Homo sapiens: one gene and its partners. The protein of the gene in region 1 purifies or fractionates together with the protein of each later gene. This does not show direct contact. Each region holds a gene or a part of one and is shown in the gene's direction. Other genes may lie near its edges. The genes, in order: PLAC1, EPC1, MBTD1 and EPC2.

The links.
Region 2: the proteins of PLAC1 (region 1) and EPC1 purify together in Homo sapiens (affinity purification with mass spectrometry; 3 studies listed by BioGRID and IntAct, with this or other methods). This does not show direct contact.
Region 3: the proteins of PLAC1 (region 1) and MBTD1 purify together in Homo sapiens (affinity purification with mass spectrometry; 3 studies listed by BioGRID and IntAct, with this or other methods). This does not show direct contact.
Region 4: the proteins of PLAC1 (region 1) and EPC2 purify together in Homo sapiens (affinity purification with mass spectrometry; 3 studies listed by BioGRID and IntAct, with this or other methods). This does not show direct contact.

What each region holds. Positions count from the first base shown.
Region 1 is NC_000023.11:134,655,470-134,662,893, reverse strand, and holds the start of PLAC1 (placenta-specific protein 1 precursor), read left to right. Parts: upstream 1-4,422; 5' UTR 4,423-4,566; intron 4,567-7,424. UniProt on the Homo sapiens protein: May play a role in placental development.
Region 2 is NC_000010.11:32,281,139-32,288,165, reverse strand, and holds part of EPC1 (enhancer of polycomb homolog 1), read left to right. Parts: intron 1-891; coding exon 892-1,068; intron 1,069-1,150; coding exon 1,151-1,240; intron 1,241-1,323; coding exon 1,324-1,472; intron 1,473-3,115; coding exon 3,116-3,468; coding exon of another isoform or gene 3,469-3,581; exon of another isoform or gene 3,582-4,045; intron 4,046-7,027. UniProt on the Homo sapiens protein: Component of the NuA4 histone acetyltransferase (HAT) complex, a multiprotein complex involved in transcriptional activation of select genes principally by acetylation of nucleosomal histones H4 and H2A.
Region 3 is NC_000017.11:51,250,025-51,257,051, reverse strand, and holds part of MBTD1 (MBT domain-containing protein 1), read left to right. Parts: intron 1-7,027. UniProt on the Homo sapiens protein: Chromatin reader component of the NuA4 histone acetyltransferase complex, a multiprotein complex involved in transcriptional activation of select genes principally by acetylation of nucleosomal histones H4 and H2A.
Region 4 is NC_000002.12:148,640,577-148,647,771, forward strand, and holds the start of EPC2 (enhancer of polycomb homolog 2), read left to right. Parts: upstream 1-4,174; 5' UTR 4,175-4,441; coding exon 4,442-4,594; intron 4,595-7,195. UniProt on the Homo sapiens protein: May play a role in transcription or DNA repair.

The sequences.
Region 1 (7,424 bases):
GTAGTGGCATGATCTCGGCTCATTGCAAACTCTGCCTCCCAAGTTCAAGCAATTCTCCTGCCTCAGCCTCCCAAGTAGTTGGGACTACAGTCGTGCACCACTATGCCTGGATACTTTTTATTATTTTGTAGAGATGAGGTTTTATCATGTTGAGCAGGCTAGTCTCGAACTCCTGGGCTCGAGCAATCCACCTGCTTCAGCTTCCCAAAGTGCTGAGATTACAGGCATGAGCCACTGCGCCTGGCTAAGCATTTCAGGCTTTGTAGCCACATAGTCATTTTTTTTACAACCCTTTAAAAATGTAAAAATCATCCTTTGCTTGTGGGCTACACAAAAACAGACTGTGGGGAAAGTTCTCAACTCTTGGTCAAGACAATCAACACAACAATAGATTAAGCACTGCTTTGTAGCATTTGCTAGTTTCCCTGACATAAATAGTCCTACCATGGCCAACTTCAGGCTACACAACTTGATGTCACAGAATGTGGAGTTGGGAAGAGATGTCCAGTGGCAGAACATTATATAGTATTTCCAGTATACTGATATAAAAGATATAAGTAACCTCAAGAGCATGGATAATAGCAAAGTGTAGTCAAATAATTAGAAAGGGATGAGTTTCGCATATGTATTAGCTTTGTGGGTTTTTTTGGTTTTGTTTTTTGAGACAGGGTCTCATTCTGTCACCCAGGCTGGAGTGCAGTGGCATGATCATAGCTCACTGCAGCCTTGACCTCCTGGGCTCAAACGATCCTCCTGCCTCAGCTGGGACCACAGGTGTGTGGCACCACACCCAGCTAATTTTTTAAAAATTATGTTTTGTAGAGATATGGTCTCCCTATGTTGCCCAGGCTGGTCTGGAACTCCTCAGCTTGAGTGATCCTCCCACCTCAGCCTCCTAAAGTGTTGGGATTACAGGCATGAGCCACCACACCTAGCCAAGCTTTGTTTTTCATATAATTTATTTTATTGCAAGGTTATATAATTTAATTTCTAATAATGGCTGAATTTAACAACTCAGCTCTCAAAATTAATTTGTCTCTTGTAAGTTGGTATGAGCACACCATTGTGACCATAACAAATTTCAACCTGTCTTTTTTTGTTGGGGAGTAGGTAAAAAGAGAATCTTCACTCAATTTGGTCCATTATTCCTTGTAACAAAAGAATTTACTACAGGGTTTCTTTGAAGCTGGGAGTTTCCCTGGCTCTTCTAAAATAGGAAATGATTTTAGATGTTATTTTTACGTATTTTCAAAAAGAGGTCTGTCTCTATTCTCAACTGCTTCCTGACCACCTTTTGCTTCCAAATAATGAAAACTATTTAAAGGAAAAAGGAACTACTGTAGTGTGGTTTTAAGAAAAGCACATACTTTGCTCTTTCAGAAGTAGTTACACAATACTTCTGCCCATAAACTGGGGAAGAGTTAAAATAGCTTTCCAAGGCTCCTCCCAGGGCTGTGATTTTCCTCTCATCTGCTCAGGTAATGCCACTCATGGTGCTCATTCATTTATTCAGCTATTTGAGCATCTACCAACTGCCCGCCAGTGTGCTGAGCCCCAGGGACACAGCAGAACGCGAGAGAGACATGGCCCCTGCTGAATAAGTAATTACGCAGATCATTATTTACTTATACTTTACATTAGTACCTTAAAGGAGAGCATATAACATAGCGGCCTGATCTATTCTGGGAGATTCAGGATGTGGCATTTAACCTGACACCTGAAGAATGAGTAGAAAGCCATGCCAAGGAAGAGGCAAAAAGAAGTAGAACACCCTTCCTTCCAGGTGATGGGGACATCCTATAGGATGCTTGCCCAAAGCACAGGTACACATACAATACATACACAGATACACAGCATCTCTTTGGTATTAAAATTTAATGGGGGGAGAAATTAGAAAAAAAAAAGACGTCTAAAAAGGCTCCTGGGATGAAGGGGATGATAATTTTTTTAAAACAACATTGAGAAACATTGGTTTATATAAACAACTTGGTGCTCTTGAGCTATTATCACAGCAGTGGCAGAGCTAAGAGGCTGACTCCTCTCATGAGGACTAGCTACAGACCTGCAGGCTCCAGAGGCTGATACTAAGACAGGAAGTTAGAGGACTCATGGTTTCCCACAACTCCAGAAAATATCCTCTGTTATCTTTCAAATACTGCCTCTTCTCATTCTCTCTCTTCCCTCCTTCTGGAACTCCAACTGGACACTTACTGGAACTTCTCATTCTGTCCTCCATGTAGCTTAGCTTTCCTTTCTTATTTTTCATCTCTTTATTCCTCTGCTCTGCATCTGGATAATTTCCTCAGCTCTATCTTCTGGTTCACTCATTCTCTCATCAACTGTGTTTAGTTTGTTGTTTAATCCCTCTGTTGAGTGTTCTTTTTTCCATTGCAATGCCTATATTTCGGTTCTTTTTTGCATTCACCTGTATTTTTCAAACTATTCTATTCTTGCCTTCTAGTTTCTATTCCTTTTTAAAACCTCTTTCGGCCAGGCATGGTGGCTCACGCCTGTAATCCCAGCACTTTGGGAGGCTGAGGCGGGTGGATCACCCGAGGTCAGGAGTTCAAGACCAGCCTGGCCAACATGATGAAATCCTATCTCTACTAAAAAATACAAAAATTAGCTGGGCATGATGGCAGGCACCTGTAATCCCAGCTACTCAGGAGGCTGAGGCAGAAGAATCGCTTGAACCCAGGAGGCGGAGGTTGCAGTGAGCTGAGATCGCACCATTGCACTCCAGCCTGGGTGATAGAGCAATACTCTGTCTCAAAAAAAAAAAAAAAATCTTTGAACATTTTCAGCATACTTATTTTAAAATCCCTTTTAGATTTTCTTATTAGCTGTGGTTCTTAAGGTATGAATTCTTCCATTGGTTGCACTGGTCTTATGGTGGTTTATTTCCTCACGGACTTAGTAAGTTCTAGCTATGCATTCATCCTGAGTCATAGATACAAACACAGATTCATGTGCTATATACCACCTGGGTTTGAATTCTGGCTCTGCCACTTAGTACCTGTGTGACCTTAGGTAAGTTATTTAATCTCTCTGTTCTTCAGTTTCAGTATCTGGAAATCAGGGCTGTTCTACAAATGAGTTATTAGGTTGGTGGAAAATGATTGCAGTTTTTGCCACTAATTTCAACGGCAAAAACCGCAATTACTTTTGCATCAACCTAAATAATATAAGCCAAGCACTTAGGACAGCATCTGGCACATAATTAAGCACTTGGCTAGTGTAATTACTGTTATTTGGCAGGAATTGTTTTACCTTGGAGTCTTATGTACTTTGGGTTATGTGACTGCCTACTCTCAGCTCAAAGTGGCCAGTACACTTCTGAACTGTGTTTTTTCCCCCATCCCCACTTATGGGCCAGCACTTACCACTACTGACTTTCCATAGGAGCTCAGATTCCACTCCCGTTCCCACCCTGCCATTCAAACCCTTCGCCCAGGATATGTGACCACCTTTGGTTCTTCTGTGGGCTGTGTAGTTGCTGCTGTGGCTTTGAGCTCCCTCTTCATTTCTGGCACTAGAATATGTTTATTTTTGCTTTTGCTCTCTACAACATATTTAAATTTTTGAAAAAACAATGTGTTTTGAGCAGGGGAGGAGCTTCCTGCAACAGCTCAGGCAACCATACTGACCAGTAATCCCTAAAAATTCTTTCTTTTTTTTTTAAATTTTAAGTTCCGGGGTACATGTGCAGGATGTGCAGGTTTGTTATGTAAGTAAACATGTGCCATGGTGGTTTGCTGCATCGATCAACCCATCACCTACATATTAAGCCCAGCATGCATCAGCTATTTTTCCTGATGCTTTCCACCCGCCACAGCCCCCCAAGAGGCCACAGTGTGTGTTTTCCCCTCCCTGGGTCCATGTGTTCTCATTCTCCCTGAGCATTCTTCCTGAAGAGGCTTACCTCTCATTTGGCAGTGGGCTCCTTGAGAGAACTGGGGACAAAGGCTGGATTCCTGGTGGGAAGGGACATATATTATTTGTTTTTGTATTCCCTATGCCTGATATGTGTTTACTGAGTAAAGACACGAAAGACTGCCTTGGCAACAGCAAGCACTACAAGTGGCCAGCTCACTGCTTGATTTCTCTAAGAATTACCACCACCATGTTGTAACCCTCCTCCCCGCCCTTCTTCCTGTGAATGAGTTCTGTCAAGGTGACATGGCTTCTAACACATGACAGTAGGTATCATTCAATCACTGATGATCTCAAGGGTGAGTAGCTTTCTTTTACTCTGTAAACAAAATGCCAAACTGGGAAATGCTGCAGAGGCCACATATTATTCTGACTTTCAGAGTGTTGTTTCGAAAGCACCAGAGTAAAATGTTAAGCAGGTAGCTGATGCAATCTGGCAAAGTCAGTATATAGCTCTATTTATATAAAGACACACACATATATCAGACCATCAGAAGGATTTGTATAAAGAGTGACTCTCCTATGAAGGTAAAGGCCACCCCTCTTCAGTTCCAGTGACTGAGATACATTTTTCCAATCCTGGGGGCAAATACAGACACAGCAAGTTCCTTCTTCCCTTTGGAAATTTGGCAGGTAAGTCAAGTCTGTCTCTGTTGCCACATTCTCTCGAGATTTTATGACTGTGCACATGGCCTGTGTGAAAGCTTCGCTTAGGTCACCTTATGCCTTGGCAGCCAGCATGGTGTATGACGATTCAGGAAGACCCTGGTGTTTCCCAGATGGGGCCAGATCTGGCCATGCAATTATTGCCCTCCAGCTGGGAAATGTGACATGGGGGTGATGAAGTGGCTGCTGAGAAGGAGGCAGTTAGACTCTGAATTTGGTCTGTTCTTTATTTAAATCTAAAGATTGAACACACACACACATAGATCTAAAATCAATATCATACATTCACACACACACACACTCACACATGCACCACTCCCCAACTGCACAGGGTATTTTTTAGGGATTCATGTGGGATTCCCCTACACATATTTCCCAGTCTAACTGCCTATTCTTTCCCCTGTTTACTTGCCATCTCATCATTCTCTCTTCCTTTACTCTCCTACTTATCTTTATCATTGCTTTTAGCTGTGTGTTCCTATTAACCCAGATGATCAGTTTCAGACTCTTTGAGAAAGAGACAGGGACCCTAAATCCATTGTGAGCTGCTTTGTCTCATTCTCTCCCATGACCACAGAGAGGCATGTCTCTGGACCTTGATTCTGAGAGGAAACAGATTCACAGAAACTACACCACCACTGGTAGCACAATGTTACTCTCAGGGTGGACATTCTCATTTATAAAAAGAGTAGTAGAATAAATTGCATTCTAATCCCAGCAGCTCTAATAACTTGTCCTTCTTTCTATCAATATACTGATCACTGTTACTACAGAGGCAGCAGGGAACAAATATGGGCTCTGTATTTAAACAAACTTGGGTTCAAGTTCCAGCTTCAGCAGTTAATAGCTGAGTGACACTGGGCAAGTTGCTTATCCTCTCTGATCTTCTGTTTCTTTATCTGCTTAATTGGCATCAAATAGAATATACAGACAGTCCCCAACTTGCAATGGTTTGGCTTGCAATTTTTTGACATTATGACGGGCTTATTAGGGTACTGAATGCATTTTTGATTTATGATATTTTTGATTTGTGATGGTTTTATCGGGACATAGCCCCATCATAAGTCAAGGAGCATCCGTATGTTCAAGGTGCTGGATACATAATTGGTGCTCTATAAATAGGTGGAATTACTATGATTATTTGGATGATGGTCGCAACCCTTGGTCCTTCCTGTCTCACTGGAGTTAGAGACAATCAGAGTTAAAGGAGGACTCTAAAGATGAACAAAGCATCTTCTCACGGTCAAGTGACAGCTCGGAGCTGCTGGATGCTCAGCATAGCACTAGCTCTCTAACAGGCTCTAGGAGAAACAATGGGTAGATCTACTCCTGCTCTCAAGGGGCCCTGGCCATCCAAATGAGCAGATAAGATGAAAATGTCTACAAATGTTAAAAAAGAAAAAAAAAAGGCTGGGCATGGTGGTTCATTTCTGTAATCCCAACACTTCGGGAAGCTGAGGCAGGAGGATTACTTAAGCCCAGGAGTTCAAGACCAGCCTGAGCAATGTAGGGAGACACCGTCTCTACAAAAACTAAAAATAAAATATCCAGGCTTGGTGGGGCACACCTGTGGTCCTAGCTACTCAGGAGGCTGAGATGGGAGGATCACTTGAGCCCAGGAGATCGAAGCTGCAGTGAGCCATCATCACTCCACTGCACTCCAGCCTGGGGGACAGAGCACAACCGCATCTCAAAAAAGAAAAGAAAAAAAGAGGAAAATGTAAATATGAGTGGGCAATAAGACTAGTATCTGCTAAATTCTTCCCTATAGACCACAAGTGCTATGGAAATTCAGAGAGGGGGTGCTGCTGTGAATAAGAAGTCCTCCTGGAGGAGGCAAGGCTTCAGCTGAGACTTAAAGAAAGGATGAGGCTTGGAGTGACCCCTAGAAAAGGTGGGAGCTCTGTGGGCAAATGCTGGTCAAACTTGAGAGGTAGGCACAACTGTTATTTCCAATTTACAGATAAGAAAATGGAAGGCCAGATAAGCCTAGTGACTTCTCTAAGGCCACTCAGCAAGTAATGGCAGCACTAGGATTTAGGTAGAGATCGGTCTCTGTCTGGTGTTGAAGGCTACATTCAAAGCTGGCTCTGACTGAAGAAAGATGAGAAATAGGAAATAGCCATTGATGGTTTTCCAGATAGGAGTGACGTAGAAAAGGCAGTGTGTTTTCTATATTCACAGTGCAGCAGGTGTTCAGGGGACGATTCTGGCACTAGAGGGGTCAATTAGGAGGCAGTTGCAATACTTTAGGGCTGAGGTATTGAAGGCCTGATCCAGGGTAGGGGCATGGTGGGACTAGAGAAGGCATTAAGCCATTAGGCATGTCAAAGGGCAAATTCACAGACTTGGGAACTGGCTGAATAAGGAGAAAGAAGGACAGCGGGATGATTAAAGAATCTGATATGGGAACCAGAAGACTGGGCAATGCTGCTACTAGGCATATTGGGATAGCATACTCATTTTAAGGTTGCTGTTTATATAAAACAGAGCCTGGTTTCTTTTATTATTATTGCTATTAAATCTTTTTATTTTTTTAAAAACACACATACCATAAGAAAACAGACAAATTCAGAATATGAGATATTCTACAAGACAACTAGCCTGAACTCTTCAAAAATTCAGTGTCACACACAAAAATTAGGAGCATGCACTGTTCTAGATTAAACGACACTAAAGGGACATAAGTAGATGCAATACACAAACCTTGGTTTTGGATTCTGGATTTTACAAAGCTATGAAAGACATTTGGGGAATATTGGGGCAATTTGAATATGGATTGGAAATTAGATTATATTAGGAATTATTGTTTATTTTCTTAGCTG
Region 2 (7,027 bases), on another chromosome or scaffold:
CCTTATGGTTTGGGAAAACCGTAGTTTTCCCAAAAAACCATAATGTCATAAACTACATAAAATGTAACATGAATATTTAGCGTATTTACATAACCGTGGTATTTGCCGTGATCTTTTTCTTTCCAACAAATACAATTTTTGCCACTACTTTACCTTACCTATTGCCTACGTATCAAATTCATACTTCTCCCAACCTTTGCCATCATCTGCAATACATGTTTCGAACATGCTGTGTTCCATCAGCTCAGTTACTGTTGCCTGTATATTTTATCCTGCATTTCCCCTATTTAATGATTTCATATCTTTATCCTTTAAAACTGTTCAAAAGTCACCATTTCAGAAAGCTTACATTGTTCAGCCCACAAATCCTTACTACTCTTTATTTGTATAACCCCTCACTCAGCATTATGGCTTTGTTTTCTACTATGTTAACAGTTTTCTGTAGTTTGCTTTCTGTGTATACGAAGACATTTTCATTATTATTTGTCCTATATTTATTATTTGTTGAGAATAAGGATTAGACAATCCCCTTTAAAAAAAAATTCTCTTCTAGAATTTTCATAGAAAATTAAGAAAATGGGAGGAGCCAGCAGTAAATACACTAATTGCAGTTGTAAGACTTCAGAAGTTGGAGAACTTCTGTTCTCTCCTTTTAATTGAAACAGAATCATTTGTGTGATTATGTTTAGATTGTAGGACAAATTTATGCTTTCATGGAGGCCAACTTCTCTAGACTTTACACTATAAGATGGCCAAACATAGAGTGTTGTGTCTCTTATGAATATGAATGCCCTCATTATAGCAATAAACTTCTTTTTAAAATTTCCCCCAAAACTGCAAATTTGTTGAACATGGTTTCTGGTGTATAATTAATTCATGTCTTTGTTGCAGCAAGATAAAGCCGATCTTATCCGACCGAAACGGAAATATGAAAAGAAGCCCAAAGTCTTACCATCGTCTGCCGCTGCTACTCCCCAACAGACGAGTCCTGCTGCACTGCCAGTCTTCAATGCTAAAGATCTGAATCAGTATGACTTTCCCAGCTCAGACGAAGAACCTCTCTCCCAGGTACAAATACAATTCTCTATGAACATTGAGGAGGGATGTAGGAAGTCACGTATCTGACCTACTTTCTTTATTTCATTTAAAGGTTTTGTCTGGCTCTTCGGAAGCTGAGGAAGACAATGATCCTGATGGTCCTTTTGCTTTCCGTAGGAAAGCAGGCTGTCAGTACTATGCTGTAAGTTTCAGAGTGTCTTTGTAAATAACAAACTATTTACCTTTAACTGACAAAATTAAATAATTTGGATTTTTTTTTTTAAGCCTCACTTAGACCAAACTGGCAACTGGCCTTGGACTAGTCCTAAAGATGGAGGATTAGGGGATGTGCGATATAGATACTGCTTAACTACTCTCACCGTACCCCAAAGGTGTATTGGATTTGCACGAAGACGGGTTGGGCGCGGTGGAAGGTAAGGTATTTCTGTATTCCTAGCAGAAGGATATTTTAGGCATTAGGGTGATTGAATCTAACTTTTAAAGTCAGGTAATCCCTCTGAACAACTCATTAGTTCCTATTTGCTATTCTTAACTGATCTGTTGACTAAAATATTTTTGTTGCTGTGCTGCCTGGTTCTTACACATCCATAGTTTTTGACATAACTCTATTGGGTCCCTAGTGGACCTGCTTTTCTCCCCAAGGTGGAAAACCTCAGATAAATTATCAAGGGGTAGAATTGTGAGAAAGGGCAACAGATGAAGACAAGTGTAAATCCTGATTGCACACAGTGTATTAAGTTAAAGAAACTGCAAAAAAGTTGTTTCACACTAGCTAGTATAATGGGTTTAACCTGACAGTGAAAAGGATCCATGCATAACCTGATCTTGACATCCCAGTTTGTTAGGATCTAATTGTTCTTCCTTTGTTTAAACCTTGTAGAATTCCTTCCTTCATACTCTAAATGCCTTTATGCGAGTTGCTTGTATGGGGACAGGAAACAAATAGCAAAACACATAAACTCAAGGAATGGAGAGACGTTAATGTATAATGTGCGGGGAAAATTAAAAGGGAAAGCAAATAATAGTATCAAGGTGCTTTTTCAGGAAGAAACCCAAGCGTATATTTATGATAAACTAATGGCTTATACATATATTTTTTTCATCTTCAACTCTTAATTGCAGAGGGTTTTTTTTTATTATTTAAACATTGGTTAAGAATTATCTAGGCACTAAAATACATTTTATTTAGTCCGTTTTTTTCCATCACTGCTGACATCAGGAGCAGTGAAAATTCTCTACGTTAGCTATATTTTATTCTATTACTAACATTAATCAATGTTATTATTTTGACTTGGAGCCATTTATAATGTTTATATAAATAACATAAGAGGCCAGGCATGGTGGCTCACACCTGTAATCCCAGCACTTTGGGAGGCCAAGGTGGGTGGATCACTTGAGGTCAAGAGTTTGAGACCAGCCTGGCCAACATGGGGAAACACTGTCTCCACTAAAAACACAAAAATTAGCTGGGCATGGTGGCAGGCGCCTGTAATCTCAGCTACTCGGGAGGCTGAGGCAGGAGAATCACTTGAACCCTGGGGCGGAGGTTGCAGTGAGCCAAGATCGCACCATTGCACTCCAGTCTGGGTGACAGAGTAAAACTCCATCTCTCTCAATCAATCAGTCAATCAATCAATAACATAAGAATATATCCTCTAGAGTAGTGGATCTCAAATATTTTGTCTATAAGAAATGTTAATGGTATACTATGTTTTTTGTTGCTTTTCTTCTCTCTTCTCCCTTTCCCCCCAAAAGGAATGAAGTTTTTGCTTAAATATAGAATAAATGTGTTCGCAACATTTTATAAAGCATTCATTTTGGTGCTTTGTAATGGAAGTGAAAATCTTTAGTTGAAAAACAATTTGTTAAAAGAACTTTTATTAGAAATTGAGGTTGTAGCCTATAAAAACCAAACACTAAAATAATCAACTTTAAAGCTTTTAAATATTCAGTATGAGTTGGCCTTTTGGCAGTTGGGGGTAAAAAGAAAAAGCTTTAATATATAATCTTTGAATAGCTATTTTAAATAACTGTTTCTTGTCTGATTTTTTAATAGGGTCTTACTGGACAGAGCTCATTCAGACTATGACAGTGTGTTTCACCATCTGGATTTGGAAATGCTTTCCTCACCACAACATTCTCCAGTCAATCAGTTTGCCAATACCTCAGAAACAAATACCTCGGACAAATCTTTCTCTAAAGACCTCAGTCAGATACTAGTCAATATCAAATCATGTAGATGGCGGCATTTTAGGCCTCGGACACCATCCCTACATGACAGTGACAATGATGAACTCTCCTGTAGAAAATTATATAGGAGTATAAACCGAACAGGAACAGCACAACCTGGGACCCAGACATGCAGTACCTCTACGCAAAGTAAAAGTAGCAGTGGTTCAGCACACTTTGGTATGTTGACTGTTAATGATGTACGTTTCTATAGAAATGTCAGGTCCAACCATTTCCCATTTGTTCGACTATGTGGTCTGTTACATTTATGGCTTAAAGTCCTTTTCTCTTAAACAGTTAAAAAAAAAATCTTGGTCTAAGTATTTATTTGAATCCTGTTGCTATAGGAGTTTGTATGTGTGTGTCTTCATTTAAACATACCTGCATACAAAGATGGTTTATTTCTATTTAATATGTGACATTTGTTTCCTGGATATAGTCCGTGAACCACAAGATTTATCATATTTTTCAATAATATGAGAAGAAAATGGGCCGTAAATTGTTAACCATTTTATGTTCAGATATTTCTCTAGTTTTTACCTAGTTTGCTTTAACATAGAGACCAGCAAGTGAATATATATGCATAACCTTATATGTTGACACAATAATTCAGAATAATTTGTTAAAGATAAACTAATTTTTCAGAGAAGAACATTTAAAGGGTTAATATTTTTGAAACGTTTTCAGATAATATCTATTTGATTATTGTGGCTTCTATTTGAAATGTGTCTAAAATAAATGCTGTTTATTTAAAATATTCCTATAATCTTAGCTGTCTGTTTTAAAGCATAAGTTTGTGTTATTTGAAGCCTATATATTGTAGAAATTCACCATTGAATTATGTTACTACTGATTTTTGTAAAGGTAATCTGAGGACTATGAAGATATTTATCATTCCCCTAATTCACCCTGTAGGGTTATAGTTAAGTTGCTTCATAAATATGAACATTTGCTCTGATTCTTAAAGACCTCCAGAAAATGTTCCGTAAACTAATTTACTTGGTGGTTAAAAAAAAGTACAGTTGACCCCTGAACAACATGAGGGTTAGGGGCACCCCCCAATTGCAGTCCAAAATTCATGTATAACTTTTGACTCCCCAAAAACTTGACTAATAGTCTGCTCCTGACCAGAATTACCAATAACATAAACAGTCCATTAGTCCATTAACATAAACAGTCCAAACATACATGTTTTGTATGTTATATGTATTCTGTACTTCATTCTTAAAATAAGCTAGGAAAAAGAACATGTTATTAAGAAATTTATAGAGCCAGGCATGGTGGCTCATGCCTGTAATCCCAGCACTTTGGGAGGCTAAAGTGGGCAGATTGCTTGAGCCCAGGAGTTCAGGACCAGCCTGGGCAACATGGTGAAACCTCATCTCTACAAAAAATGCAGAAATTCACTGGGTGTGGTGGTGAGCGCCTGTAGTCTCAGCTACTCAGGAGACTGAGGTGGTAGGAGCCCAGAAGGTCAAGGCTGCAGTGAGCCAAGATCATGCCACTGCATTCCAGGCTTCACAGCAAAGCAAAACCCTGTTTCAAAAAAAAAAGAAATTCATAAAGGAGAGAAAATACATTTACTAATCATTAAGTGTAAGTGGATCATCATAAAGGTCTTTATCCTTGTCATCTTCACATTGAGGGGGAGGAGGGGTTGGTCTTGTCATCTGAGAGGTGACAGAGGCAGAAGATAATTTACAAATAAGTAGACCCAGGCAGTTCAAACCCATGTTATTCAAGGGTCAGCTGTACTTCTATGAAATGGAAGTCTTTCAGCTCATGAGAAAAATAATCACAATTCAGAAATCAGCTGGAAGATAAAGCTATTTTAGGGACTAACAGCTTATTTATAATCCCATTAATGTTACTGTCTTTATCACCAAAAGCCAGTTTCTCTCTACTTTTATAGTCTTAAGAATCAAAATAAAGAACTTTTCAATAAAGACTTACTTATAGTGTTAGTATAGAGGTTTTAACAGTATAAACCTGTCATAGGTTACCCTGATAATTAAGCTTTCTAAGCTGTAAAAATTCTTTAAGACTTCTCAGAAAATAGGCATGTTCCATCAATCTCCATCTTCTCCACCCCTTAAATAGAGAAGTTGAAGTGTATAACTATCCTAAATATTTAAGGATTTTATAATGCTCTTTTTTTATGAAAAATGTTTTGCTATACTGCTTTAGGCATATTAATAACAGTTGTAAAAATTGTTTGATTTGTGTTTGCCCAAAGAACATTAAAAGATGAGCATTACCAAAAGCTTAGCTGAAAAGAAATCATTAGTAACCTTGTAATTTTTCTTCTTTATCATTTCTTTCCTCCATATATGCGATACAACTATTTATTTATTTATTTAAGACAGGATCTTTCTCTGTCACCCAGACTGGAGTATAGTGGCACAGTCATGGCTCACTGCAGCCTCAACTTCCCAGGCTCAGTGATCCCCCAACCTCAGCCTCCTGGGTAGCTAGGACTGCAGGCGTATGCCACCATGACTGGCTAATTTTTTGTAAGAGATAGGGTCTATGTTGCCCAGGCTAGTCTTGAACTCCTGGCCTCAAGTGATCCTCCTGCCTTGGCCTCCCAAAGTGCTAGGGTTACAGGGGTGAGCCACTGCACCCAGCCTCAATACTACTTTTTAAAAATGAGTTTATCTATTTTTTTTCCTGTTGTCTTAATTATTTTCAATTTCTCCTTAAATTTTGCTAGATCTTCTAATACTTAGAGGATAGATACCTACAGACTACTGTAGGGTAACACTGTTCATTTATATTTGTGAATATTCCAGAGACCTAAAGCTTTTCTCTGCATACTTTATAAAGTATATTACAATGCAGCCATATCATAAGTGCATTTCACTTAATCCAACTCCAGGCCCCTGAAGAAAAAAAAAACAAAATTTAGGCCAAGTGTGGTGGCTCATGCCTGTAATCCCAGTACTTTGGGAGGCCGAGGCGGGCAGATCACCTGAGGTCAGGAGTTCCACACTAGCCTGGCTAATATGGCGAAACCTGGTCTCTACTAAAAAATACAAAAATTAGCTGGGCATGATGGCAGGCGCCTGTAATCCCAGCTACTCAGGAAGCTGAGGCAGGGAGAATGGCTTGAACCTGGGAGTCAGAGGTTGCAGTGAGCCGAGATTGTGCCATTGCATTCCAGCCTGGGCGACAGAGTGAGACTCCATCTCAAAAAAAAAAAAGAGAAAATGTAGCAGCTCAAATGTTATACAGAATTCTAAATACAATTTACTGAAAGAATATATTCTCCAGAGTGAGCCTGGAGTAGGGGAAGTTGAATGTGTTGGTCCTCTTACGGCGTGAGTGCCCGCATTGCCACTTTATTCATAGGTTAAGCATCTTACCTCATTCAGTAGTAATTGTGATTTTAAAGATAATTTTTAATTTTCATACAGCATGGCCCCCACATACAAACCAGACTACTTCCTCTGGCACTTAACCAAAGAAACTCTGATGTAGTCTGATGCCAGCAGAAAAACTGGCAGTGTTGGGCTAATTAAAACAGAAGAGTCAGGCCAGGCACAGTGGGTCATGCCTGTAATCCCAGCACTTTGGGAGGCCGAGGCAGGCAGATTGCCTGAGATCACCTCAGATCAGGAGTTCAAGACCAGCCTGGCCAACATGGCAAAACACGTTTCTATTAAAAATACAAAAATTAGCCAGACGTGGTGGTGGGTGCCTGTAATTCCTGCTACTCGGGAGGCTGAGGCAGGAAAAC
Region 3 (7,027 bases), on another chromosome or scaffold:
TTTTTTTACCTGCAAATTTAGGATTTCTCTTCTTGCTTTGCTGGAACCCACAATAAAAGGTGAAAAGGAAATAATTCCCATTTGAACAAACCCTGAATATGAGATAGGATGAAGTGATACAATAAGAGGGGTGCTGGCAGTGAGGTTGATGTCACAATTCTGCCATTGAGTAGCTCCATGGCCCTTGTTGGACAAGATCCTGTGCCTCCATTTTCTCATGGCAGTTGAAGGGTTAGTCTAGTATCAGCATAATCCAATAGAAGTTTCTGCAATGATGGAAATTTCCTATATCTTTGCTGTCCAGTTACGGTAGCCACTAGCCACATGTGGTTGTTGAGCACTTGAAATGTAACTAGTGGAACTAAAAATTGAAGAACTCAATTTTTAATTTTGCTGTTTTAGGCAATGTAAATTTAAGTAGCCAAATGTCTGGCATACTGGACATACACACATAGAACACTGTTTTCTAAGCATAACTAATCATTATAATCACTTCTTGGAGGCTCTTGTTAAAATACTAAACTTCTCTCCTATAACTTATTTAGTAGGTCTGCAGTGGGTCCTGGGAATGTGTTTTTAATGTATACCCCAGAAAGTTTATCAGGTTGGTTAGGGAAACACTCCATTAGGAGATTTCTGAGGTCCCTTCGAGTTCTCACTTTAGCACTGATAATTTAGAATTTAGTCTAGTAGAAGTGAGCTCTGGACAAAGTCAGCAAGCTACCTCTCTGAACTGCGATCTTAGGTGAGTTGTGTAACCTCTTTGAAAGCTTCACTTTCCTCATCTGAAATACAGGGTGAACATCAGCCCTGCCTCCTGTAGTTTCTGTAAACCTCCACTCAGATGTTATGCCCGCTGTTTAAAAAAAGTAAGCTGCTATAAAAGATGAGACAAGTCATAAGATAAAATGTTAAGATGTGTTCCCAGGCTTTCCTTCTTTTTCCTTTTTCACTATGTTTAATTCCTACTACTAGTCTTTTAAAACTGGTTGTATATAATACTCATTAGTTTGTTCAACGTTGTGGCCCAATTATTTGGCCACCGTTTGCAGTCTTAATTGTAGGACAGGAATGTTAAGTCTAATACTTCTTTGTATTTCTGGTGCTAAGCATAGTGATTTGTATATATCGTTCAATAAATATTGGTTAATATTAACCAGGTGTGTTGGCTAACGCCTGTAATCCCAATACTTTGAGAGCCCAGGACAGGCAGATTGCTTGAACCCAGGAGTTCAAGATCAGCCTGGGCAACATGGCGAAACCCTGTCTCTACAAAAAAAAATTACAAAAATTAGGTGTGGTGGCACACCCCTGTAGTCCCAGCTACTCGGGGGCAGAGGTGGGAGGATTGCTTGAGTCTGGTGGGAGACCCAGGTTGAAGTGAGCCATGATTGTGCCACTGGACTCCAGCCTGGGCGACAGAGTGAGACTCCGTCTCAAAAAAAAAAAAAGGAAAAAAAAAAGGTTATCATCATCTATTACTTTAAGACTTCTAAGCTTTAAAATTTGCTAGAGATTATTTTATACACCAGAGAAGTAGCCCCCTTGTGTATCTGTATGTGTTTAACCCATCTTTGTTTAATTATTAACACCCTGTAGTTACTATTGTTCAGTGATTTTATATCTTCTGAGCAACCAGTTCCAAATATATTTTTTAAAGGTAAACACCAAGAGAATGTTATCATTTCAGATCAAGTGTTTTTAGGTTATATCAGATCAATATGATACTGAATAAGCTGTTGAATTTACTTTCTCTTTTCTTTTTTTTTTTGAGATGGAGTCTTGCTCTGTTGCCCAGGCTGGAGTGCAGTGGCATGAGCTCGGCTCACTGCAGTCTCCGCCTCCCGGGTTCAAGTGATTCTTCTGCCTCAGCCTCCCGAGTGGCTGGGACTACAGGCAAATGCCACCACACCCAGTTCATTTTTGTATTTTTAGTAGAGGTGGGGTTTCATCATATTGGCCAGGCTGGTGTCAAACTCCTGACCTTGTGATCTGCCCGCCTCAGCCTCCCAAAGTGCTGGGATTACAGGCGTGAGCCACTGCGCCTGGCCCGTCTCTATGTTAACATACTAATAAATGATCTTGTTTGATCATTCAGACCACATTCGCCCTACAGACCCAGCTTGAGTATGAATTCTATTATTGGGGTAGAATTGATAGCTGATAATGATCTCAGGGAATCTCTAGGCCACTGCATGTTTCAGACTTAATTTTGATATGGTCATCTTATTTTTAATTAGCTTTCCAGGTTTGTACTTAAGGATTCATAGCTTTCTTCGGAAGAACTGAAAGCCTATTCATGTGAATTTTTTTATTTTATCATACATCCTTCCTGTGTGGTAAGTGATGTTTTTCTTATTTAGAAGAGAGGGAAACTGAGACCCAAGTAATTGTTACATCCGAAGTCATAACAGTGATAGGTCTAGAAGTTGAACCCAAAGAGGTAGAAATTTGTATTTCTTGTAGATCAAAGAATCACTTCCTTTTGTTCACTGTTGCTTTAAATCTTAAAATATTGCTATGTAGAATATTGTCCTCTCCTATCATTCTCCTGGGTACTTTTCCATTTCTTTAGATGGGTTATTCAGAATATTATTGCTTTTGGTTTCCTCTTGATTGTATCATTGACATGAATTTATTCTTGCTTGCACATTGAATTTGTGGGAAATAAAAACTCAGTAATCCCAAATCCTTACCATTTATGTTCCTCGTAACAGTAAGCTTAGAAAGAAAGAAGGCATTTCTCTTTACACTGATGAGTTTTATCACTATACCAGAATGTGCTTTCATCCTCATAGTATAATAGAATGAAAAAGAGGCCTGCAGGAGCTAAATAGCTCTTGAGCTCCTACCAAGTTCAGTCATTGTAGAGTATGTATTAATCTCTGTTTACTACTTTGTGATCTCATGCATACAACATTCAAATTTAAGATTCTAGAAAATATTTGCTCCATAGCTAAATATAAAAATTTGAAAATTATGTGAGCCACTGCTCCCAGTGGGTTTGGATAATGAAGAATTGGTTGACTTCTGATGAGTTTATTCATATCTGGTGAGTTTACTCATATTGAAATTACACTATTATTAATATTACTTGGCTCCATGTTTATTGACACCTGCATTTAAGATTTCAAGTGTTTTCTGTCATTTCTCCCAGAGATGTTTAGTTTTGTTGGAACTTTTGTTTGGTTATACCAATAAGTTAATGACTATGCTTTTTAATTCCCTTGTAGATTTCATAGGGAGGATGGTTTACCTAAGTGACAGTTACAGTAGGACAATGAAGTTCTGTTGTGATTTGTGATCTCTTCTTTAATTTTGTCACTATAAAAACCTTTTATTTTTTATTATAGAAGTACACCTATAATGTTTTAAAAAAGAAAAATATTGAAAAGTTAGATTCATCTTCCCATGCCACTTCTACCCTGCTAAAAGTTTAGCTACTCCTAAGGTCTTTCTTAGTGCACATAAAAACAAACATACATATATTGATCTGTGTATATGCCAGTGTATATTGTCTCTTTGAATAAAAAGTGAGTCATATTGTGATATATTTTATTATACTATATATTGTGATTTATTTTTTCCACTCAGTATTTTACCTGTTGCTCATGATTCCCCTGCTGATTGTAAGTTTGTCTCCAGTTTTTCATTATTATTACATTAGCAAACATCCTTCTACATAGGTTCTTGTGTCCTTGTATGTATTATGTATGAGTATTTCTGAAGGACAGATTCCTAAAAATGGAATTACCTAGTCAAAAGGCATAGCCATTTTAAGTTTTCATATGTAATGTCAAATTGCCTTCCGGAAAGATAGTGTAAGGTTACCTTCCTACCAAGTGTATATGAGCACTGTTTTTCCCACATGTATTTACTGATACCAGATATCATCAATCTCTCAATATATACCAACTTAATTTTTTAATGTACTGTATACTTCATATAAATTAGCTTTTATTTTTATCAAAGTAATACATGCACTTGATAGTACAATAATTAAACAATGCTAAAAGTATTCCAAAAAAAATGGTCCTTGTCCCAATTCAGCTCTGATGAGACAACTGCTTTCATTCTTTTAGCTTTCTCATCTAGTATCTATCTCTCTAATTCTAAAGCTTAGGCTTATATTATTTATTTAGTATATGAATTTTAGACATTAGTGACTTTATAGTGGACAGGGAGTTAGAACATACACCCAAATATAAAGCAAGGTTTACCTACCTACAATCATTCCATCTCCCTACATTCAAGACCTTAGTCATCTAATATGATTTGCAGTTTTTTGGGGTTTTGTTTTGTTGTTTTGTTTTTTTTTGAGACAGAGTCTCACTCTGTCGCCCAGACTGGAGTGCAGTAGCTCAATCTTGGCTCTCTGCAACCTTCGCCTCCCGGGTTCAAGTGATTCTTCTGCCTCAGCCTCCCTGGTAGCTGGACTACAGGTGCCACCACCACACATGGCTGATTTTTGTATTTTTAGTAGAGATGGGGTTTTACCATATTGGCCAGGCTGGTCTGGAACTCCTGGTGGATTACTCCTCAAGTAATCCACCCACCCTTGGTCTCCCAAAGTGCTAGGATTACAGGTGTGAGCCACTGCACCTGGCCTCGGTTTTATTTTGAAGAGCAAAATGTTCATGAAGGCACGTTACCTGAAACATATTTATTTGATGCTTGTTTTGTATGCTTACAGAGGCTAGCTGACAGAACCAGTATTGGGGAGGGGGGAGAAAGAAGGTTAAAATTTAAAACGTTTTAAGATAGTCCCATGATTCATATTATTAGTGTTCATGGTGGTTATATGATCTTGGGCAAGTTGCTTAGCCTATTTGGGCCACTGCTTCCTCCTGTAAAATGAGAGTGACACTCATAAGGTTTAAATGCGCTGCTACAGATTTAAGTGCTGAATATGCCTGACACATACTAAGCATATTACAAATATTATAATAATAACCAAATCAGATCAGTAACAAAAATAGTCCAACATGGTTGGGTGCAGTGGCTCATGCCTGTAATCCCAACACTTTGGGAGGCCGAAGTGGGCCAATCACTTGAGGCCAGGAGTTCGAGATCAGCCTGGCCAACATGGCGAAACCCTGTCTCTACCAAAAATACAAAAATTACCCAGGTGTTGTGGCACACACTGTAATCCCAGCTTCTCGGGAGACTGAGGCATGAGAATCGCTTGAACCTGGGAGGCAGAGGTTACAATAAGCCAAGATCATGCCACTGCACTGCAGCTTGAATGACAGAGCAAGTCCAATATTAGGTTATTGTAGAATTTACAAATAAACTCCTATAGGACGAAATGTGTTTAAGAGTTCAACTCACAAATTTAGTTTATTTCTCTGCCTATAAATAGAGATTTGTAGATTCTTATAGGTAGAGAAATAAACCAAATTCCAACTGCTCCTTATGATCATTCCTCTAGGTGTTAAGAGTGAGAGAGGGAAGGCTTGACAAATTTACTGAAAGAGGTATGGGAGTGTGAAAGCTTTAGACAAGGTACAAAGATCCACTCTCAGAAAGAGAAAATCTGAAAAAAGCTCCAAAACATTGATCATAGGTTTGGAGTTTGATAGTTCACAGCTCTATGTATGGAGAAGAGCTTAAAGGTAAGCAGTACCAGAATTGGTAGCTTTAAATTATAAGCATTGCCTCATAAGGGAAACATGAAGACTTGGAGACATGTCAGTGAAGACTTGGAAACATGGCAGTGAAGAAGAAGAAAGAAGAAAAAATTCTTCAGGAAAAGAAAAAAACTGAACTTAGAGAAGAGGGTGTTCTTGAAGTAGGAGCTCTGCCTATGAAATGAACAGAAATAGAAAAGAGCAGGCCACATCCATACAGAACTGTAAGAAAAAACAAACAGGAAATGTGAATCAGCATTTCAACTGATGAAAATCTACCCCCATCAAAAAAAGCAGGAAAAAATTGACACAATGCTCCAAGTGAAATTAAACATCCTCAAACCAATGTTTGGAGATTTGAAAAATAAAATTAAGAAATATTCTGAAACAAATACAAAGAACAAAAAGCATTAAGAAATGAACACAAAGTAGATTAAACAGAAAAATAGAAGATAAAATCATAACCAATAATGAAGTTTTAACATTCCCACATTTCAAATTCAAATTTAATAAAAAGTCTTGAAGAAAAGCAGGAAAACAGGATAATTGAGATGAGATTTTTGTTTTGAAAATTGACCAAGTTGAAATGGGAGATGGATCCAAAGTCTACTGTATATAATTGGTGTCCTTCAAGAAGAGAAAATATTTAAAACTATAATCCAAGAAAACTTTCTGGAAGTGAAAAGAGATCTGAATCTATACCACAGAAGTTCATACCAGAAGGCACACTCAAAGATATTTCCTAGTAAAGCTGTATGACTGTAAAGATGCAAAGAATTCTCAGGGTCTCCAGGCAAAGACGTGACATAGAGGCAAGAGAATTAGACCAGTGTCAGATTTCTCAAAAGCAACATAACAAAGCAAGACAGTGGAGCAGCATGAGGAAAGTGACTGCTAGCCAAGGATTTTATATCCAGCTAACTGTTGTCCAGGTATTAGGGCTGCAGAACAACAGTTTGAACATGCAGGAACTCAGGGAATACTGTACTCGTTTACCCCTCCTGAGGACACTCGAAAAGGATGACTTTCATCTAAAAGATATTTGGGACATTTCCTACAAAAAGACTGTGACAATAAGTATTTCAGATATCTTTTTGAACTAAGATTAAAACCAATAGTAGGGACCTAGAGAATAGTACATAAACATTATACATTCTGACAAAGCAGAAAGAATGCAACTAAAATATAATGGGATGGAAAATAAAAGGAAAAACTAAGGCCATGTGTGGTGGCTCACACCTGTAATCCCAGCACTTTGGGAGGCTTAGGTGGGTGGATTACTTGAGCCCAGGACTTCTAGACCAGCCTGGGCAACATAGTGAGACCCAGTCTCTACAAAAAAAAAAAAAAAAGTGTTTAATTAGCCAGGCATGGTGGCTCATGCCTGTAGTCCCAAC
Region 4 (7,195 bases), on another chromosome or scaffold:
AAAAAAAGAAAGAAAAAAAAAATCCTGAAATTACATCTACATAGCTTGCTTGCTGTTTGGACACACATAACTGTCCAAGTCAGATTTGTTAGCTTCATCACAAGAGCTTTACTTATTTCTCTTATCCCCATCCAAAAGCCTGAGTGAGCAGCGTCAATCTATTCCAAATGTGGAGCACTGGTTGTGTTTTACGGTCCGGGTGGGGCAACAAATGAGACAGGCTGTCAGTGCAATTCAAAATTGGGTGTTGTGGACCCTCTGGAGCTGTGTGTTTTCAAATCTGTTTCTTTTTTTTTTAGTTACCAAAATGCAGAGCTTTCAGGCTGATTATTTTGGAGTCTATTTGGATCCTTTGTGGAGCTGGGAAGTAAATCGTCAGCTTATACACAAGGTGGCACCCTGTGATTCCAACCAGGTCTGAGAGGAGCGATGCTGCTAAGAAACTGAGCCACAGTCACAAATTTTTATTTACCATCTGCTATTCCCACGGTGGCAAATGCAGAGGTAGAAGTAGATGTTTGGCAGGTCACCTCTCAGTGTAGTCTCTGTCCCTATGTCTCAAAGATGCAGAGCTGCCTCAGAAAAGGGCACTGGAACCACAGAACTGATTCCAGTTGATTGTAATGAATGCAGACCCCACATTCAGATTACATATGGAAAACAACGAAGCTTTATTAGTACTAGGCTCATTCCTGGGAACATAAGGGGGAGGGGTGGAGATGCAGTTCACATACTAACCCAATTAACTTTCAAATGGTTTTGCTGAAACCAGGAGCCAATTAGAAAGAACGTGACATTTGCAAAACTCTGAAATAGTTGAATAGCAACTGTGTTTACTAGTTTTAAGATTCCTTTCAAAAAGTAATTTGTCCATTATTTGGAAGCTGCCTGCCTTGATTATAGTACTGGGAGATGGACACTGGAATGTAATCCTAATTCTAACAGTTATTTGACATTTATTCTAATTTAGACTACATTTAGACAGTGATTTTATTTTGATATGGCTTTAAACTGGTTTTAATTCTTGGGTGCTTATATATTATGCTTGCTGGGCTAAATGCATGTCATTTGGAATTGGTCTAGAGCATATCTGAAGTGGACTGATTTTAGAATGACTATACTTAGCGCATTGTATGTGGAAATTAAAATAGGCTATTAGGCTGCACACCCATTTGAGGCAGGTCTTGATAAAAATATTTCATGAGAGAATTTTTTATTTTATAAGAAGATATTTTTTGCTTTTAGCACTAACAATTATATGAGTATTCAACAAATCAATCAGAAATAAACTTTATGAAAAGTAATATTTATATACAAATAAAAGTTACTTTCCAAAAGTGAACAGTGGCATTCCGGTTTGGGCACTGAATTGGAAGCCAAGAAAACACAGGCTGTGTCTCCGTTGAAAAGTATATTGTGTTATTTGCCTTAAATGGTTTTATTCCCAGCTCTATAATCATTGCCTACAGGGTGAGAAGAAAATGGAGATTTGGGGAAGAAATCTTTTACATGGTCAAAGTAAAAGAACAACAAAGAAACAACCACAACAGCAAAAATCCCTTCCTATAAATTCCAGGTTTCAAAAAGGTGTTTTTGAATAACATTAATTGGTTCTAAAATCTCTATGCACAAAGGTACAAAGCTGGACAACAGGGTAGGCCACAGTAAGAACAAATATTGGCAGCAATAGCTAGGTCAGGTGACAGGCCAGTGAGGTATGTGAACTATAAACTAGAGTGGCATGGGGTCAGTATCAGTGAATTTCTTCATGGAATATCAGTCAACAAATATACTTTAGATGCCTGCCATATGTGAGGCATGGAACTGGGGATACAGTGATTGACAGACAGATGTTGTTCCTGCCCTCCTTGGTCTACTGCAACTTTAGGCTCTGGCTTATGCGCTCCCTTGGCCGTTGGTTGGAAGGTCTTAGTAACTAATTTTGAATTAGCAGCTTTAGAATGCTGACTGGTCAATAAGCTGAAGAGCTTGGATAGCAGGGTAGCACCACTGAGAAAACCAGAGTTTTGGAGTCAGGTCAGACCTGAATTTGAGCCCAGTTCTGCAAGTTGTTGGAATTGAAATTTGGCAAATTATCTGATGCTCAGTTTTCTTATTGGTAAAATTATATTTTTTCATAAAATTATAATAAGAATTAAGTGGAATTCAACTAGTTGAGATAATATATATAACATGTTACTACAATGGATGGTATATTACACATACTTGATATTTCCTTTTCTGAGAGAAACAGTAAAACTAAACATAGGGACTAGAAGAAAGCTATCCTTTCTGAACCTGAGGAGGGCTGGGCATCCAGATGAAAGCTCTGGATGACTCATTTCTTCAACTATTGCTTTTTTCTTCCCTTTCAGGCTTGAACCCAGTGCTGACCCCCTCCCAAGAACTTCTTGTTCTTGCTTCCAGAGGATTGGAACTGTTCCAGGGGTAGCACTTAGAGAGCAGGACATGCCCATAAGCTTGAGGAAGGTACTGCTTACAAGAAATGAGTCACAGCAACTCCATTGCTTCCAACAACAAAGTGGATGAAAAACACTCAAGCCCCACTAAACAATACTCGGAGTTTTGCTGCGACAGACTGGTTAGACTATTTGGACACTACCATGAAGACTATATCCACCATTCTGCCTTCAAAGGAGGAGACTGCAGAGAGAAAAGGGGAAGAGGAACAGGAGGAAAAAGGGGGAGGGGAGGAAGTGGAGGAGGGGAAGAAGGACGTAATAGAGGAAGAGATATAGTTTTATTGTCACATAGAAATGACAGTAGGAATCAATTTTTTCACTGTTGGTCTTTAGGAAATCATCTGACTTTCTCTGAGTTAGAGTATGATCGATTATTAGAAAATGGTAAAATGTGTTAAAAACTCTCTTTGTACGGTTTTGTGAGAAATGTGTAATGCTTAAAGACTAACCAAGAGCCTCTTGGCTAAACCAGGTTGATGTCAACAATAGCTAGTACTTATTTGAGTCACCTTGATTTTCCCTCCTCTTGAGAACTTTCTCTAACCAGTTTAGGCTGCAGTCATGCCTCCTTTCCTTTCTCTGAACTCTCACAATTATTGCCTAGATCTCGTTTGGTAATTAATCATGTGCTACTTACTGCCTGTGTCATCTCTTGTATTGTTTTCTTAAAATATTTACACTTTTTTTTCGGTTGTCACTTATCTTTCCAGCTGTCATTTTCTTCAACTATTTACGTCTCTGTTACTCATCTTTCCAGCCATCCTGGCATCCCATTAAGGTGAAAGCTCTCTGAGGCAGGAACCTTTTCTCAGATTTCTTCGAGTCTTCCACAGCACCCCACATTTGACACACATCTGCTACTTCGCAAATGTGTGCTGCCTTGGCTAAATTTTTAGAAGCTGAACTTTTAGGAAAGCTACTATTTTTGAACTCAGAAAAATACCTACCATCCACTAAACAGCTGTACCGAAGTTTGGGTGACAGGGAACCTAAGTTCACTTGTTGCATCTGGCAGCCTCAAACCATGAACCCTCACTGCAAAGCGAGGATGAACGCGCTGCTGCACCTTGGAGAGCTCTTTCGGACAGGTACGGAGGGGAGGGCGTAGAAGAGGGCTGGCACCAGCAGCGCGGTCCAGTCCTCCGAACGGACTGATGGGACTGATGGGAGAGACCTCTTGCACCTCTCGGGGATGTGCGCCTCGGAGGATGCGAATTAGCTTGCGCACAGGGCGCCTTGGGGATAGCGCTGTCCAAGTACAGGCTTGGGTGATGGCTGGTGGGGTCCGGGTCGACATTTTCCCTTCCCGCTCCCGGACTTCTGCACACACGCGCTGCTCGGCGCAGCCGTCTTTGCCCGGCGCCTTCCTCCGGGACACCCAGCGAGAGGGGTGACCGGGCGGCGGCGGGAGAGGCGCACGCTCCCGGGCGCGGGCGAACTTGCGCACCTGGCACCTGCCACACAGCGAAAGCACCGGCCAGCGAGCGGAGGGGCGCCGCCCCCGCCCCCTCTCCCCGGAGCGGACCGAGACCGAGCACGCTCCCGCGGGCCGGCAGCGCCGCGGAGAGAGTGGGTGGGCAGGCGAGGGAGGGGAAGGGAGAGGAAGGAGGGAGGGAGGGAGAGGGCGAGGCGCGTTCCCGCGACGGGGGCGCGCTCTCGCGCGGGCTGCCGGGATCGCTCGCCGCCGCTGTGGTAATGTCCGCCATGTTGGCCATGGCGCAGGGAGCGGATCGGGCGGGCGAGCGGCGGATCTAGTGTGTGGAGGCGGCCGCGGGCGCGGGGGGCTGTTTTCGGGCGGGGTGGGCGCCCATGCTGTGGCCGGGGGCAGTGAGGAGGAGGAGGAGCGGGCCGGCCGCGCTGCACTGAGGAAGGAGGTGGAGGAGGCGGCGGGAGTCCTCCCCCCCTCCCCGCCCGCCCCGCCGCCGCCGCCCGGGCTGTTCCTGTAAGGCGGGGAGACAATGAGTAAACTCTCCTTCCGAGCGCGGGCGCTGGACGCCGCCAAGCCGCTGCCTATCTACCGCGGCAAGGACATGCCTGATCTCAACGACTGCGTCTCCATCAACCGGGCCGTGCCCCAGATGCCCACCGGGATGGAGAAGGAGGAGGAATCGGTAGGGACTCGAGTGTTTATTACCCCCCCTTCCCTCCTCCCCCCTCCCCTTTGTCAGTCGGGCCTCGCCATTCACAGAGCGCTTTACGCTCGCTGGAGGGCGCCGCTGCCGCTCTAACGCACGGGACTCTACGCCGGCGGAGTAGCGTAAACCCTCTCGGCCGGCGTAGCGCCCGCCCGCGGCCGCCATGTTGTTGCGTCCCAGTGTTGTGATTAGCTCGCAGCGCTGCTTACGCTGCCGTAAGGGGGCCTTGCCGTAAGCGGCGGCCGGGAATGGCGCAGGGGATGCGCTGGCCGCTCTTGGCGTACGGTCTCTGTTTACCTTTCCACCTCCCTCTCTCAGGCGCGGGGCTAATTAATGGCGTGGTATTATTTGGCTAGGCAAGATTATTATTTTTTCCACTTTTAACTTTGGCTTTGTATTGAGTTCTCTTTGAAATGACTGTGGAAGGGTGCTTTCAAAACAAACATCTTCCTCCCAGCAATGTAATCATCCTGGCTCCCCCGCCCGCGAAGGTGCAGCGGGATGAGGCGGTGCAGCACTGCGGCGGGGGAGGGCGGGGGCCACGACTACCGAGCGGGTCGTAGCGTCCGAGGGCCGCCCGCCGGCCAGTTCTGCCGACCCGAGCCGGGCGCGGGGCGGACGGGCTCTGCCTGCTCCGCCTGGACGGCCGTGCTCCGTGCGCAACGTTAGAGAGGAGCCGGGGATGCCCGGAAGCGAGCCGCCGGCGTTGCGTTGTCCTCGAGAATTGTCATTGCGAGGTGGTCCTTAGAAGTTGAGGACCTAGTGCATCTAAATTGGCAGTTGTAATTTTGATAATACAGCACCTTTTGGGAAAATTGCTGCTTTTCCTCCGATGGGTTAAATTTTGCAGACGGTTGGATTTCATCTGGCTTGACAGAGAGTGTTTATGACTCGAGTGGTGTTACTTGCGTGCGAAGTTCATAGTAACTGCACCCTCAAGAATTTCTTCAATGAACCTACAGTCCCGCCTTATTGTCAACCTCGGGTGTGTGTGGATTGGTTCTCTTGCTTCAGTGACTGTCAAAAGGAAGCTCGAGGTTTCAGTGATTGGTTTTCTCTTTTGACTATTAATATTGCAGGAAATGCTTTTATGCCTTCGATTGGCTGGTTGAGTTCTGACCTCATTATGTTACCCTGTTAATACTACTTTGCTCTTATTTAATCACATTTCTCTTTGATGTATAGTTACTTGAAAGTCTTACATTTTCAGTAGAAAATGCATATGGCCGTAGCATCGGGATGAACTTAACTGTGTGTGTACACACACAAATATGTAATAGATATATATACACGCACATACACATATATATTTGTGTGTGCATATATATAAATATGTTTATAATCAAAACCCAGCATTTATCCCTAAGGTTTAGAGCTGTGAGAACTTTTTTTTTTGTATGTGAGAACTTTTTTTTTTAATTTGTTTCTAACGACTCAGTTTTCCATGGGAAGGAAAATTAAAATAAAATCATATTATATACAATAGTTAATTACATTGAACCCTAATAAGCACAACTTTGGATATTTTTGCTATTTTGTGGGTCTTGATCCAAAGAAAGATGGCCTTAAAAGTACCAGTATTGTGTGTAATTACTTTGATCCTATTATTTTAGAACTTGAGTCAAATCTGTTCTAGGCCGGGCACGGTGGGTCACGCCTGTAATCCCAGCACTTTGGAAGGCCGAGGTGGGCGGATCATGAGGTCAGGAGTTCGAGACCAGCCTGGCCAGTATGGTGAAACTCCGTCTCCACTAAAAATACAAAAATTAGCCGGGCCTGGTGGTGCGCGCCTGTAATACCAGCTACTCGGGAGGCTGAGGCAGAAGAATTGCTTGAACCCGGGAGAAAGAGGTTGCAGTGAGCAGAGATCGTGCCACTGCACTCCAGCCTGGGGGACAGAGCGAGACTCCGTCCCCCCCAACAACAAAAAAAAGGAAATCTGTTCTAGAGTGAACAGTTAACTCCTGGAAGGTATATTACTTTTTGCAATCACCAACATACGTGGTCCTTAGTATGCCACATATGTTTTGGTATTTTAATTTAGTAAGATAACTTAGAGTAATTTTTTCATGCTTCATTAAAAATAAAAGTGCTTAACTCGTGTTGCAATTTTTTGTTTATTTGTTTTTTGAGATGGAGTTTAGCTCTTGTCGCCCAGGCTTGATTGCAATGGCGCGATCTCGGCTCACTGCAACCTCCGCCTACCAGGTTCAGGTGATTTTCCTGCCTCAGCCTCCCGAGCAGCTGAGATTATAGGCGCCCACTACCTCGCCCAGCTAATTTTTGTATTTTTAGTAGAGTCGGGGTTTCACCATATTGGCCAGGCTGGTCTCAGACTCCTGACCTCAGGTGATCACCCGCCTCGGCCTCCCAAATTTCTGGGATTACAGGTGTGAGCCACTGCGCCTGGCCGCGCCTTGCAGACTTTTTTTTTTTTTTTTTTTTTTTTTTTAATTTATTACCGAGTCTAGCTCTGTCGCCAGGCTGGAGTGCAGTGGCGCGATCTCAGCTCACTGCAACCTTCGCCTCCCGGGTTCAAGTGATTCTCCTGCCTCAGCCTCTCAAGTAGTTGGGACT